2 linked regions of the Homo sapiens genome follow. The protein of the gene in region 2 interacts with the protein of the main gene of each other region in a pairwise test. Each region holds a gene or a part of one and is shown on either strand. Other genes may lie near its edges.

Region 1 (7,029 bases), on a different chromosome or scaffold from region 2:
GGAGGCCAAGGCAGGTGGATCACCTGAGGTCAAGAGATCAAGACCATCCTGGCCAACATGGTGAAACGCCATCTCTACTAAAGATACAAAAATCAGCTGGGTGTGGTGGCGCACACCTGTAGTCCCAGCTACTCAGGAGGCTGAGGCAGGAGAATCACTTGAACCCGGGAGGCAGAGGTTGCAGTGAGCCAAGATTGTGCCACTGTACTCCAGCCTGACGATAGAATGAGACTCCATCTCAAAAAAAAAAAAAAAGGCCATACAGCTTTTGGAAAAGACATCTTAAAATAATGTATAAAAAGCACTAGTTATAAATATTTGACTATATCAAAATTAAGAGATTGCACCACTGCATTCCAGCCTGGACGACAGAGCGAGACTCAGACTCAAAAATAAATAAATAAATAAATAACAAATGTGGATTGTGGAAACGAAAATACCAAACTGGATTGTTCATAATAGCCAAAATATGGAAACAACCCAAATGTCCACAACAGTGGATTGCTTAAATGATGGCATAGTCAAATATAATGGAATATAATCAGAAAACAGAAGTTAATACACTGGAGCTATATGCAACAACAGAAAGGAATCTGAAAAACATAATGGTGAGCAAAAGCAGTCACACAATGAACTGTACATGTACAAACCCTCAACAGATGAATTTTATGGTATGTAAGCTGTATCTTTTTTTTTTTTTTTTTGACAGTGTCTCACTCTGTTGCCCAGGCTGGAGTGCAGTGGCATGATCTCGACTCACTGCAACTTCTGCTTCCCGAGTTCAAGCGATTCTCCTGCCTCAGTCTCCCGAGTAGCTGGGATTATAGGCATCTGCCATGATGCCCAGCTAATTTTTGTATTTTTAGTAGAGATGGAGTTTCACCATGTTGGCCAGGCTAGTCTCAAACTCCTGACCTCAGGTGGTCCACCTGCCTCGGCCTCCCAAAGTGCTGGGATTACAGGTGTGAGCCACCGTGCCCGGCCTGTAAACTATATCTTAATAAAGATGTTTTTTAAAGAGTCAGTCATAAAAGAATAAATGCTTTCAGGTTCTGTTTATATGAAATTCAAAAATACGCAAGATAAACTATATTGTTTAAGGATACAAAGTTAGTTGATAACACCACAGGGAGAGCAAGGAGGTGAACACTTATAAAGTGAAGGGAGCTCTGGGGCAGGGAGAAGACTGTCTCGGGAGGGGGCAGGCTCCCTTTCTTGAAATGGCTGGTGATTCCACAGGACTGACTCAGGGACTCGGTAAGCTGTTTATGTTTTATTCTGTCCTCTACATATATTTCATAATACAAAGGTGATGATAATAATAATAAAACTATAAACTACTAAAAGACAAAAGTGTGACTAGTTACAAGAGCTTCAGTAGGAAATAAAGTAAGTTGCAAGTTAAACAAATATTTGTTTGTTCTGCTCATCTGTACCTGTATTTGTAAGTTTTACTCCTGGCTCTTGCAGAGGCTTTATGCCACTCTTTTGGAATCACACAGTGTGAAGTGAAAGTGAAGTAGGGCGAGCTGGCATGCAGCCTGGCCTTCTCTATTTCTTCAAGTTCTTTTATGGAATGTCGTTTTCCTACAGGAAGATAAAAAATCGAAATCAACACTCTTCAAGAACTCCAGTTGCTCTTGAAGGAGTGAGAAATCACTGGACAATTAGCAGTCTCAAAAAAATGAGGCCCAGTGATCACAAAGCACCTGTCTCACACTGAAGACCAGTTCTCCTCTCTTCATCCACCTCTTGCTGTCTTTGAAACAGAGGATCAACAAATGGTGGGACTGTAACCTACAAGAGAAATGAGACTCTTTGAGTACCAGAGTGCAGTCTGTATTAAGCTTTTAAAATGTGTCCCACATAAAGATGGGAACAATAGACCCTGAGGACTACAAGAGTGGGAAGGGCAGGAGGGGGCGAGGGTTGAAAAACGACCTATTCGGGACTCTGCTTACTACCAGGGTGACAGATTCAATTGCACCCCAACCTCAGCACCCCAACCTCGTACCCCAATATACCCGTGTAACAAACCTGTATGTGTACCCCCGAATCTAAAAGTTGAAATTTAAATAAATAAAATCTGACCTAAACATTCAAGTATGCCCTTACTGTATACCAAAGCAGCTGAGAAGAAAGGCCCCAGAATGTGCCAATCTACACCTCAGATGAGGATGTCGTACAGAGCCTTAAATGGCTGAACTGAGGGAGGGAGGGCCGCCCAGATAGAAGAGACGCACTTCTGTTAAGCGCTCTACTGTGTCATTGCATCAGCCAGTAAATATTTGTGTTGCCATTGTGTGCCACATCCAGGCTAGATCCTGTCTTCAAGGATCTCCTGGTCTAGACAGCCTAGTCATCCAGTGACAATCCAGTCCTGAGAGGGGCCCTCTCAGGATCCTGTAGGAGCAGGGGCAGTGCTAACTTAGCCTGGGAGGACGCATGCCTCCTAGGGAAGCTGACAACTGGTCCGTAAGGGCCTGTGAGAACAGAGGGTCAGGTGACCAGAGCTATGAGTTTGTGTCAAAGGGTAGGGACATACAGAAGTATTTTTTCTTCCCGCTCCTGATAAGCCTTAGACAGAGGGACTATTTTTCCCCTCCATTTCCCCCACAGCACTCATCCCAGTGCTGGACTGAAGTGCTAGGTAAACAATTACTGAATAAACTAGGCAACATAATATGTACTGCCTCCAGCACCCCAGATGCTGACATTCTACCCAGAACCAGAAGAATCTGTTCATCTTCATATGACTGACCTGGCTTGGTTTTCTGGGAGAAGCAAAAGAAACCACTTCCATCTTCAGAGCCATACATATTTTTTAAAAAATTAACAGTCATATCAGGTGGCTACTTCTGCTGCATGGGAGCGAAAAACTGAAACCTACATTTCTCCATTTTAACTCCTGTATTGGCAGTTTAAAAATCTGAAGACTCATTATAACCTCAAGTATTAGCTCTCCCGGGCAGCCTGTGCTGACATCCTTCCTGTATCTCCAGTAGAAAGGAGTGTTCCCTCCCACGTCCCATAATCCCTGTGCTGACTTCTGTGACACTCGCCACGCTCCACTGCACAAGCTGTCCACACCTCTCTCTCTCCTTCTTGTGCTTCAAGTTTGCTGAATGTGAGTAAATGAATGAACAAATGATCACACGTATCCATGCCTTGTGCACAGTGTAAATTCCACAGGAGTCTAAATTACTTTGAGTTCCTATTCTAAAACTCAAAGGAAATGCTTTTGTAGATTTTTTTTTAATAAATAGACAATAACTACAAGACTTCTAAAATGACTAGGTTTTCCCCCACTCCAGAGCTCCTAAGAATAAAAAACCAAAGAAACCTGCTCTACCTTTCCATAATTTGGTTTCTTTTTCTTCATATAAAAGGATCGTAGGCCGGGCACAGTGGCTCACACCTGTGATCCCAGCACTTTGGGAAGCCAAGGCAGGTAAATCACCTGAGGTCAGGAGCTCAAGACCAGCCTGACCAACATGGCGAAACCCCATCTCTACTAAAAATACAAACAATTAGCCAGGCATGGTGGCACATGCCTGTAATCCCAGCTACCTGGCAGGCTAAGGCAGGAGAACTGCTTGAACCCCGGAGGCAGAAGTTGCAGTAAGCCAAGATCACACCATTGTACTCCAGCTTGGGCAACAAGAGCGAAACTCTGTCTCAAAGAAAAATTTAAAAAAATTTAAAAAGGGATTGTATACTTCAGGATTATAATGGTCTTCACATATAATTTCCTTCAGATATAAAATATACTTAAGGGAAAAATCACTAGATACAAACTGTTTTGCAAGATTCATATTATAAAAGCCAAATACTGCATTTCATTTTTATATAAAAGCATAGCTTCAAAGGGTTGGAAGAAACTGCTGAAGTAGTTTGGACTGCAATGAGACTCCACCACCTTCTGGGAGAAGTAATCATCTAGCTTTAGTCTAAAGTCATCCATGGGCCTTTCAGAACTTTCTGCTCCATGAGGCAGGTACTTTTTTTGGTAATTTTAACCTCAAGAAAGTCCGTCCTTAGGTTGAGTTTAAATCTGCCTTGTAACTTGCAGGTACAGACACTAGTTCTACACATCTAATTCATCGGCTAATGTCGGCCTTTAAAATACTTAAAAGGTTCATTCCCCCTCGTGTCATTTCCTTGGGCCAAATACCCCACCTCTTTCCAGTTTTCTTCCTATAAAGTGGTGTCAAGACTCAACTCTTTTCTAAAGGTTTTGCAACTGATGAGGGTCCCTTCAACAGTGTGACATCAGGAATGACAGGTTAAGGACAGGATAGACCAAGACTCTGATGCTTCCCACTCTAAGCACAGCCTCTCTTGCCTGAGAGATGTATGTTTTCTTGGAATCCAGCTCATATGGTTGATTCACAACGACTTTACTGACATTTAAAATTACTTGGACTTCAACACATGCCATTTCTAAGATCTTCCTCCCTATACCCATGAAATCACATTTCTGGACACAAATATAAGACTTTGCACTTTGGAGATCTGGATTCAATCTTGAGCTCTGCCCCTTAAGAGTGTGTAGGAAAAAGTATTTAAGGTAAATATTCAGAAATTGTGCTCAGTAAATATACTTAAATGTTCTAATATTTCAGCTAACCTACTCTAGGGTCTCACTGTCACTCAGGATGGACTGCAGTGACACGATCATGGCTCACTGCAACCTCCGCCTCCCAGGCTCAAGTGATCCTCCCACCTCAACCTCCCAAGTAGCTGGGACTACAAGTGCACAGAACCACACCTGGGCTTTTTTTTTTTTTGTACAGACGGGTTTTTGCCATGTTGCCCAGGCTGGTCTTGAACTCCTGGACTCAAGCAATCCATCCACCTCAGCCTCCCAAAGTGCTGGGATTACAGGGGTGACCCACTGCACCCAGCCACTACTCTAGATATCTACTAGATATGTGGGGGTAAGAAAGATCCAGTAGTGCACACCTAAAGCTAACAGATTTGTATTTGATACTGCAAATAGAGAGACCCAAATTCTGAGAGCTGACCTCAAAATAAAAAAAAATCTCTAAATTAAGAAACCAAATTTTTGTAAAGCCAAACTGTAGAACAGAGTATAGAAACTGTTAGTCCTAATACCTACTGGTTGGCTAAGTCAGCCATGCAATACCATTCTCCTCTGCCCACTTCCTACTAGAGAGATGAGAAAGCCACAGTGGCTTTCCAGGCCCTGCTTATGGCTAGGACTTGCTTCATGACCCAGTCCTGGCCAATGAGACCTAAGGGAAAGTTGGCTAGGGGCCTCTGGGGACTCTTTTTGCTTCCTGCAAAGGAGTAGGGTAAGAGAAGAGGCCCCTGGCACCATTCCTTACCCCTTCCTCCTGCCCTGAATGAAGACCTAATGTCTGGAGCTATAAGCAACCATCAGGCAAATGTGAGAATGATGGGGATAAACTGAAAATACTAAGGATAGCAGAACAGAATAGGAAAAAACCTGACATTGTTATGCTGTCAGAACCCACCACGAGACCACCTACCTCTTAATTTCTTGTGAAGTAAATGCCCTTATGGTTTAAGCCACAGTAACTCCATTAACGTCTACATAAAAATCATTCCTGATAAATCTAGTTCCAAATCAACACTCCTATCCCCTCCAACCTCAGGCTTAAGAATGCAATACGTGTGTTACAATTCAATGAACTCATCTTAAATATAAAAATAAGCTGGAAACTATTTGTATAACCAGTGAAATTGTTAGACCAACTCTTCAAATTATACTCTATTTGAAAAATAAAACATCAGTACCATTTTATGTCTGTGCTGTAAATAATATTCAACATTCTCGTTTCATTTTAAGCTCTTTATATGAAATTACTTTTTCCATAATTCTCTGCTGAAGAGGCTCTGCAACATTTTCAACCCATTTTTTATGTAACATCTCTTTTCTTCTTTCCTTAAAAGTATCCACATGCTGAAAATACATATCCAATCTCTAGTGAAGTGATACAAAAAAGGAAAATAAATTATAAAGAAATGTTTCATTTACTATCATTCGAGTAAGGGGGAAAAAAAAATTTGTTCTCTCTACTAAGCTCTCAGCCACATTCGGGTTGCAAAGTCCCAGTATAAGATAACTGAAGCACAGAATAAAGTGCAGTAAGAGAAGCTGGGAACACAGAGCAGAAGAACTCATATAAACTTCTAAACCATAACTGTGCCTTCAGATTTAACCACATCTAACTCATGAATCAGATTAAGCTATTCCTAACTCATGAAACTCTTGTTTCTTTTTCAGGATTTCCAAGCATTCCCTGGTCACCCACTCTGTGTCTAGCCTTCACCATCAGGAAAGTCTGGGACAAAACTGGTAGAGTAGAAAGCGCACTAGACTTTGACACCTCTCTCTGGCCTGTGAAAGAGAGGTAATCCCATCTACCTCTTTGGATGCTTAAATGGGAATTTATGTGCACTTTCTTTACACATTGTAAATCACAATTCAAATGTCAAAGTTTTATTCTTTTTTGTTTAAAAGACAGGGTCTCACTCTGTCACCCAGGCTGGAGTATAGTGGCATGATCACAGTTCACTACAGCCCCAACCTCCTGAGCTCAAGCAATCCTCCTGCCTCAGCCTCCTGAGTAGCTGGGACTACAGGCGTGTGCCACCATGTCTGGCTAATTTTTTAATTTTTTTGTAGTGACAGGGCCTCACTATGTTGCCCAGGCTGGTCTCAAACTCTCAAACTCCTGGTTTCAAGCAATACTCTTGCTTCAGCCTCCCAAAGTATTATTATAACTCCGTCTCTCTCATTGAAATTAAATGCCCCTTAAGCTAATTTCGTAGTGACTATCAGTTACTGATTGGTCATAACCCTTAAAAGCTTATTTTGTTTCTAGTGGTTTTACTGCAATGTGGGAACATATGAGAAAGAGGCAAGTGTGAGTAGGAAAGAATTTCTATTCGGTACCAGGACGAAGAGAAGGAGCAATTGGAACAACTTCTCAGATCCCTTCAGGACAGATCCAAGTGGGATCAGGGACCTTTTAGTGA
Region 2 (6,270 bases):
GAGGTGGTTTGATAGCTTCCTGAGGGGAAGTTTGAGTGCAAAGGGAACATGCCTTAGTAATATATTTCAGATTGGCAGCCATGGCAGAAGAATGTATATAATTTTCTAAAAGCTGGAGTAGGGGCAGTAAGCAGCATGGAAATGGTTGTGCACATATGAAAGTACAGAAGGTTTTTTAAACTTGGACAAGACACTTTATCACTGAGATCAAACAATTTTTTCCTGAATGGCACCAGCCCGGGCAAGTGGGGTTCATTCCTTCTGGGTATATACAGGAAAAAATGAGCAATAACGATGGGGTTTTAAGGGCTGCCTGCCAGGCTGCCAAATTTGTTGAAAGGTTTCTCTCGGTTATGGCATCTTTAGACTTTCGGCACCCCTTGCAATGGATAATGGTGGCCTTTGGTGGTAGTTTATCCACCCCCAGCAGCTTATGTATAAGTTTGCCATTTCTTATGGGAGTTCCTTTTGTAGTTAGGAAACCCTGTTCCTGCCAGATGAAGGCATGAGACTGTAGGACATGGTATGCATATTTGGAATGGGTGTAAATGTTGACCCTCTTTCCCTTTGCTAGGGTGAGGGCCCTGGTTAGGGCAACTAGCTTAGGCTGTTGAGAGGTAGCATGGGGTGGCAGAGCATTGGATTCTAGGAGTTTATTTTCAGCAATGATGGAATAGCCAGCTGCTGGACATGGCTCCCTAAAAGAGCTTCCATTAACTAACCGTGTATGTGTTCCCTGCAAAGGGGCATGTGAAATGTGTTGGAAGGAGGAGGAGAGGGAGTCTAAGAGGTCCAGACAGGAGTGAGAGAGCCTAGAATCGGAAGTGTTTACAGGGAGGAGGGTGGCTGGGTTGAGAGTTTTATATCTCTGGAAGGGGATTAGAGGGCTACCTAGGAATAAGGCATGTACCTGTTATAAGCAGGATGGTAGGAGGGATAGAAGGGATTGATGGTTTATGAGGTCCTGTAGGTAATGGGAAGATGCAATAGTAATGTGTTGGTAAAGAGGGAGTTTCCGTGCCTCTAAGGCCAGCGATGTGGCCACAGCCAAGATTTTTAGTCAGAGTGACCAGCCTTGGTCACACAAAACAACAGAGTCCAGTTGTTTTGAGAGAAGTGCAGTGGCTTGTGTGGCGTTGCCGTATGTTTGGCAGAGTAGTCCAAGGGCAAGGCCCTGGTCAGAATGTACATACAAAGTAACGGGCTTGGTGAGGTTGGGCAGTCCCTGTGCCAGGGCCATTAAAAGGGCATTTTTAAGTTTTTAAGTGGGAGTTGATGGGGCAAGCTGGGTTTAGGGGTTTTAGGATGGGCCCATGTGAGGCCCTGTTTAGTGGCTTGGCCAGCAAGTCAAAATTGGGAACTGACAGCCAGAAGTAACCCACAAGGCCCGAGAAGGAGAGAAGGTACTTTTTTGTGTGAGGAAAGGGCATGTCCCAAATTAGCTCCTTTCATTGGGTTGGGATGGCTCGAGAATTAGGGGTTAGGACAAACCCAAGGTAAGTAACTTTGGTTTGGGCTACCTGAAATATTGTGGGCTAGGCCCAAACTTTGGTTTGGGCTACCTGAGATTTCCTCTATTATGGAGGAAGTTTAAAACCTAAGTGGTGTGTTGGATGGACAGGTTAAGGAAGGGGCTACAGAGAAGGAGTTTGACATGTTGCAGGAGGGTGCTAGCAGCAAGGGAAAGTTCACCTAGGTCCTTGATGAGGGCAAGTCTGAATAGGTGGGGGCTATCCTGGAACCCCTGTAAGAGTACAGTCCACTCTAGTTGGGTGCACATGTGAGTATTAGGACTTGACCAAGTTAAAGCAAAAAGACTTCTGTAAGCCGGATTTAAGGGAATGGTGAAATAGGCATCTTTCAGTTCCAATACAGAGGAGTGTGTAGTAGATTTAGGAATATGGGAGAGTAGAGCATATTGGTTGAGGACCACTAGATGTATTGGTACCACTGCCTGGTCAACAACTTGGAGATCCTGGACAAAGGGGTAAGTCCCGTCTGTCTTTTGGAAAGCCAGAATAGGGGTGTTCTGGGGAGAGTTAACAGGCTTGAGAATATGAGCTTGTTAAAGTTTACAAATAATAGGTTTGAGGCCCCTAAGCACGGCTGGATTAAGGGGATATTGAGACTGAAAAAAGAAAATGGAGGAGTTTTGAAAGGTTATTTTAACTGGGATGTGATGTGTGGCTATTGTGGGTTTAGAAACATTCCAAGCTTTAGAATTAACAGAAGGTAACAGGGTGGATAATGAGGATGAGTAGGGGGAGAGGGAAGCGTTTGGGTGTCGGAGTAAAATAAAAGGGGTAGAATTGTAGGAGCCGCATTGCATGGAGGCCTGGAATTTACTTAATATGTCCCACCCCAAGATAGGGGTAGGGGACTGAGGGATAACCAGGAAACAGTGGGTGAAGGGGGCTGTTGAATAGGTTGCATAATAAAGGACGAGTCTGTGCCTAGAGGGGATTTTATTGATTCTCACAATAGAGATCGAAGAACAGAAAAAGGGTCTAGAATATTCTGGTAAAACCGAGTAACTAGTTGTCGTATTGAGTATCCAATAGGAAAGACATGGACTTACTAGAGACTGACAGAATTACCCTGGGTTCCGAGGTGGTGATGGCAGTAGGGGTGGTGGACTCTAGGCCCCACCTGTCTTCAGGTACAGGTGGTGAAGCTAGATGAAGAGTTTCACTGAGCACAGTCTGACTTCCAGTGTTGCTTGATATCACAGATGGGGCAAGGCTTCCAGAGTGTCACGGGATTAGGCCAGGCTTTTGCTCAGTGTCCCTGTTGGATGCACTTATAACAGGCTCCTGGAGTTGACTGTTGCCAAGTTGAGGAATTCTGTATGCCTTGGGAACCCTGTTGAGTGGCAGCTATCAGCATTTGATATTTAGCCTGGCCCTTTTTTAGGTTTGGGTTTTTTAGTTCTTCCTCTCTAATCTTATAGACCTTAAAGGCCACTTTGATTAAGTCTCTTTGGAGGTTTGAGGGCCATCCTCCACTTTTTAAAGTTTTTTTTCAAATGTCTGGGGCTGACTGGGAGATAAAGTGTAAATGGAGGTAGATTTTGCCCTTAATGGTATTAGGGCTTAAGGTGGCATATTTAGTTGTGACCTTTGAAAAGGCGGGAGAGGAAAAGAGCAGGGGCGACTTTATTTATGCCAGCTAGAAGGCATGATATCATATGGCCTGGTTTCTGCCTGTCTACAGAAGTTGCCTGATAATTCCGATTGAGGTCAGTTCTGGGGACAGCTAGGGTCCCTACTGGGTTATGAGCAGCATCTTGTTGGTGGAGGGTGTTCTCATGGACCTGGGCACCCGTAAATATGTGTTCCCTGTCCTCCAGGGTGAGGGTAGAGGAGAGGATGACATATATGTCATGCCAGGTAAGGTCATAAGATTTAGGGAAGTACAGACATTCCTTGAGGAAGGAGGTAGGATCCATTGAAAAGGAGCAAAGTCTCTTTTCAGTATGGGAGAAGTCAGCTAGGGAACTTGAATTCAGATTATGCCTTCAGTCCTTGCAACCTCCTGCAAGGGAAAGACTTTGGAAGGCCTTTGGGCATGTGTCTGGTTTTCGGCAAAAGAGCGTTGGGCGTGAGACCTGGTTTGAGGTGGAGAAGGAAGGGGGATGGAGGGTGACAGTAAGGGGGTGGAGGAGCCGGATCCGAAGGAGAAGGTGGAGGGAATGGGAGAGGGCAGGAGCCAGACGAAGGGGTTTGTTGGCCAGGTTGAAATTCAGAGGAGGAAGGCTTGTCCCGAGGAGGAGGCATTTTGGGGGGTTTCTCCTTGAGGAGGAAGATTTGAAAAGGTGAACAAGATTGGCAGGAGAGTGAGTGAGGCATGAGCGGAGATAAGCAAAGCACTTCAGATCATTTACCATTGTGTTGGAGAAAGATTTTTAGATGATGTTGAATTTGAAAGTTGAATGTTTTGTTTTTTAGAAGAGGGGAGTGAATACTCTGGATGGGAGTGAATACTCTGGGGAAAGTGAGTACCCCAGAAGGGAGTGAATACCCCAGAGGGGAGTGAGTTCTCCAGAGGGAAGTGAATACCCCAGAGGAAAGTGAGTACTGGATTCCACCTGGGAGAAGGGACCTGGAGAGTTGGGACAGCCCCATAGCTATTCATGCTCCCCAGAGGACGGAGCGGCCAGAATGGCAAGTGTTCTGAGGCTGTCCCCTGAGAAGGGAGGCTGCAGTCACCTGGTGACTGGGGAGACCTCTCACCCAGCACTGGAATTTTTTTGGAGAACAAGCAGAAATAGAAAGGAATCCAGAAAGGAAGAATAGGGAGACTCACCCACGAATTGAAGCCCAGTGTTGGATGTGATGTCCAGCAATGGGGGTGATCCTGGTTGCAGCTGCTTGGGAAGGGGAAGGAAGGAAAAATAAGATGGAGAGTTTGATCAATATCTGGAGGTTAGTCCAGGGCTGGAGAAGATGAGAGAATAGGGGAAACAGGACTGGGAACAGACAGTCCACTCAGGATCTGGAAGTAGGCCCCGGTCTAGTTTGTGCTGCTTGCTGCTTTCTGCTTTCCAGGTTGCAAGAGAAAACTTACCCATTAGAACCCAATCACCGTCCTGGGTTTTGGCACCAAAGTGTTAGGTTTTGAAGGGAAGATGAGGGTGAAAGAAAGACAGACAGAGAGGGTGCATCTCAAACAACAACACAGGAATATTGCAGACACCTGTGGAAGTGGGGGACCAGCTTAATGCCAGAGCCCACTGCCGCTTATAGCCTGGGGTACTTACAGGTATGGGTGGGAGGGAGCTGGGCAGTATGGCTTGCTGCCCAGGAGGATATTGATAAGATGTTCTTATGATCAGGTGGTTTGGCCCTTTTTCCAGTGGAATATCATTGTGGTGTTCCTTTGCAGCTGCCTGGAAAGGGGAATGAAGGAAAAATAAGATGGAGAGTTTAATCAATATCTGGAGGTTAGCCCAGGGCTGGAGAAGATGAAAGAATAAGGGGAACAGGACTTATGATAGGGATGTTTCTTTAGTTGAGCCTTTGTCCACCTTGTGGTCAGGTGGTTAGGCAGGATGTTGCTCATGGCCTGAACCCCCATGGAATGTTTCACTTTGACCAAGGTCTGCAACATAGCAAAAACTTACAAAATCATGCAGTTTGGACTAACAGGTGACTCTACCCATGCTCCTCTTCTTCTTCTGCATAGATACCTACCCTATGATTTCACCTTGTTCTTCTCTGGCACACACCCCTTCCTCCACCTGCATTCCTTCTCATAAAGCCCCCCTTGCTATCTAGTCTCTATCCTATTCACCCAAAATAATGTCTTTCTGGCCTCTCCCTATTTTCTTACCAGATGCAAGAGGTACCAAACAGAGTCTTAGCCCCCGAACAGAGTTTGAAGAACACAAAAACATCAGAATATCCAATAATATTTGTGTATTACCTCAGGAAGGGTAAGAAAATAAATTCAAATCAACTGGAGAATGAACAGTCCCAAGAGAACTCCATCAATCCAATCCAAAAGGAGGAGGACGAAGGCGTAGACTTATCTGAAGGATCTTCAAATGAGGATGAAGACCTAGGCCCATGTGAAGGACCTTCAAAGGAGGACAAAGATCTAGACTCATCTGAAGGATCCTCACAGGAGGATGAAGACCTAGGCTTATCTGAAGGATCTTCACAGGACAGTGGGGAGGATTAGTCACACATGGAGAAACCAAATTGGACAAATCATCACCACTGATGGCGATGATTACAATAAAATCAAGTTTAAGGAGCTGATGACTGTGTTTATCTCTGCCTGTTGTCTGGTGTGGGGTGGGGAAGGGAAGGGAAGAGGTAGGCATTTGAGAAGGGAGGGATATGAGGTCCTGTAGGTTGGGAGACGGACCCACAGGTTGACAGTTAGCCAGACATTGCAAATAAGGACTGGCGGAGGACTGATTCCTCAGACAAATTTTCTTCTTAAAATTTTGTCTTACAGGAGAGGAAGAAAAGGACATGGTGTTTCTTGGAGCATGTGATTGTGTAGAAGGGTGTACAAAAAGATCTGTATTCGCTGGGCATGGTGGCTCATGCCTCTAATCCCAGCACTTTGGGAGGCTGAGACTGGCAGTCACCTGAGGTCAGGAGTTTGAGACCAGCATGGGCCAACATGGTGAACCCCTGTCTCTACTAAAAAATATATAAAAATTAGCCAGGCATGGTGTCAGGCACCTGTAATCCCAGCTACTTGAAGGCCAAGGCAGGAGAATCGCTTGAACCCAGGAGGTGGAAGTTGCAGTGAGCC

The links. The genes of interacting proteins can lie anywhere in the genome.
Region 1: the proteins of SPANXN3 (region 2) and FAM228A interact in binary tests that used the Homo sapiens proteins (3 or more experiments, as listed by UniProt).

The regions. Positions count from the first base shown.
Region 1 is NC_000002.12:24,178,053-24,185,081, reverse strand, and holds part of FAM228A (protein FAM228A), read right to left. Parts: intron 1,798-7,029; coding exon 1,710-1,797; intron 1,588-1,709; coding exon 1,437-1,587; intron 1-1,436.
Region 2 is NC_000023.11:143,508,227-143,514,496, reverse strand, and holds the end of SPANXN3 (sperm protein associated with the nucleus on the X chromosome N3), read left to right. Parts: intron 1-5,334; coding exon 5,335-5,682; 3' UTR 5,683-5,762; downstream 5,763-6,270.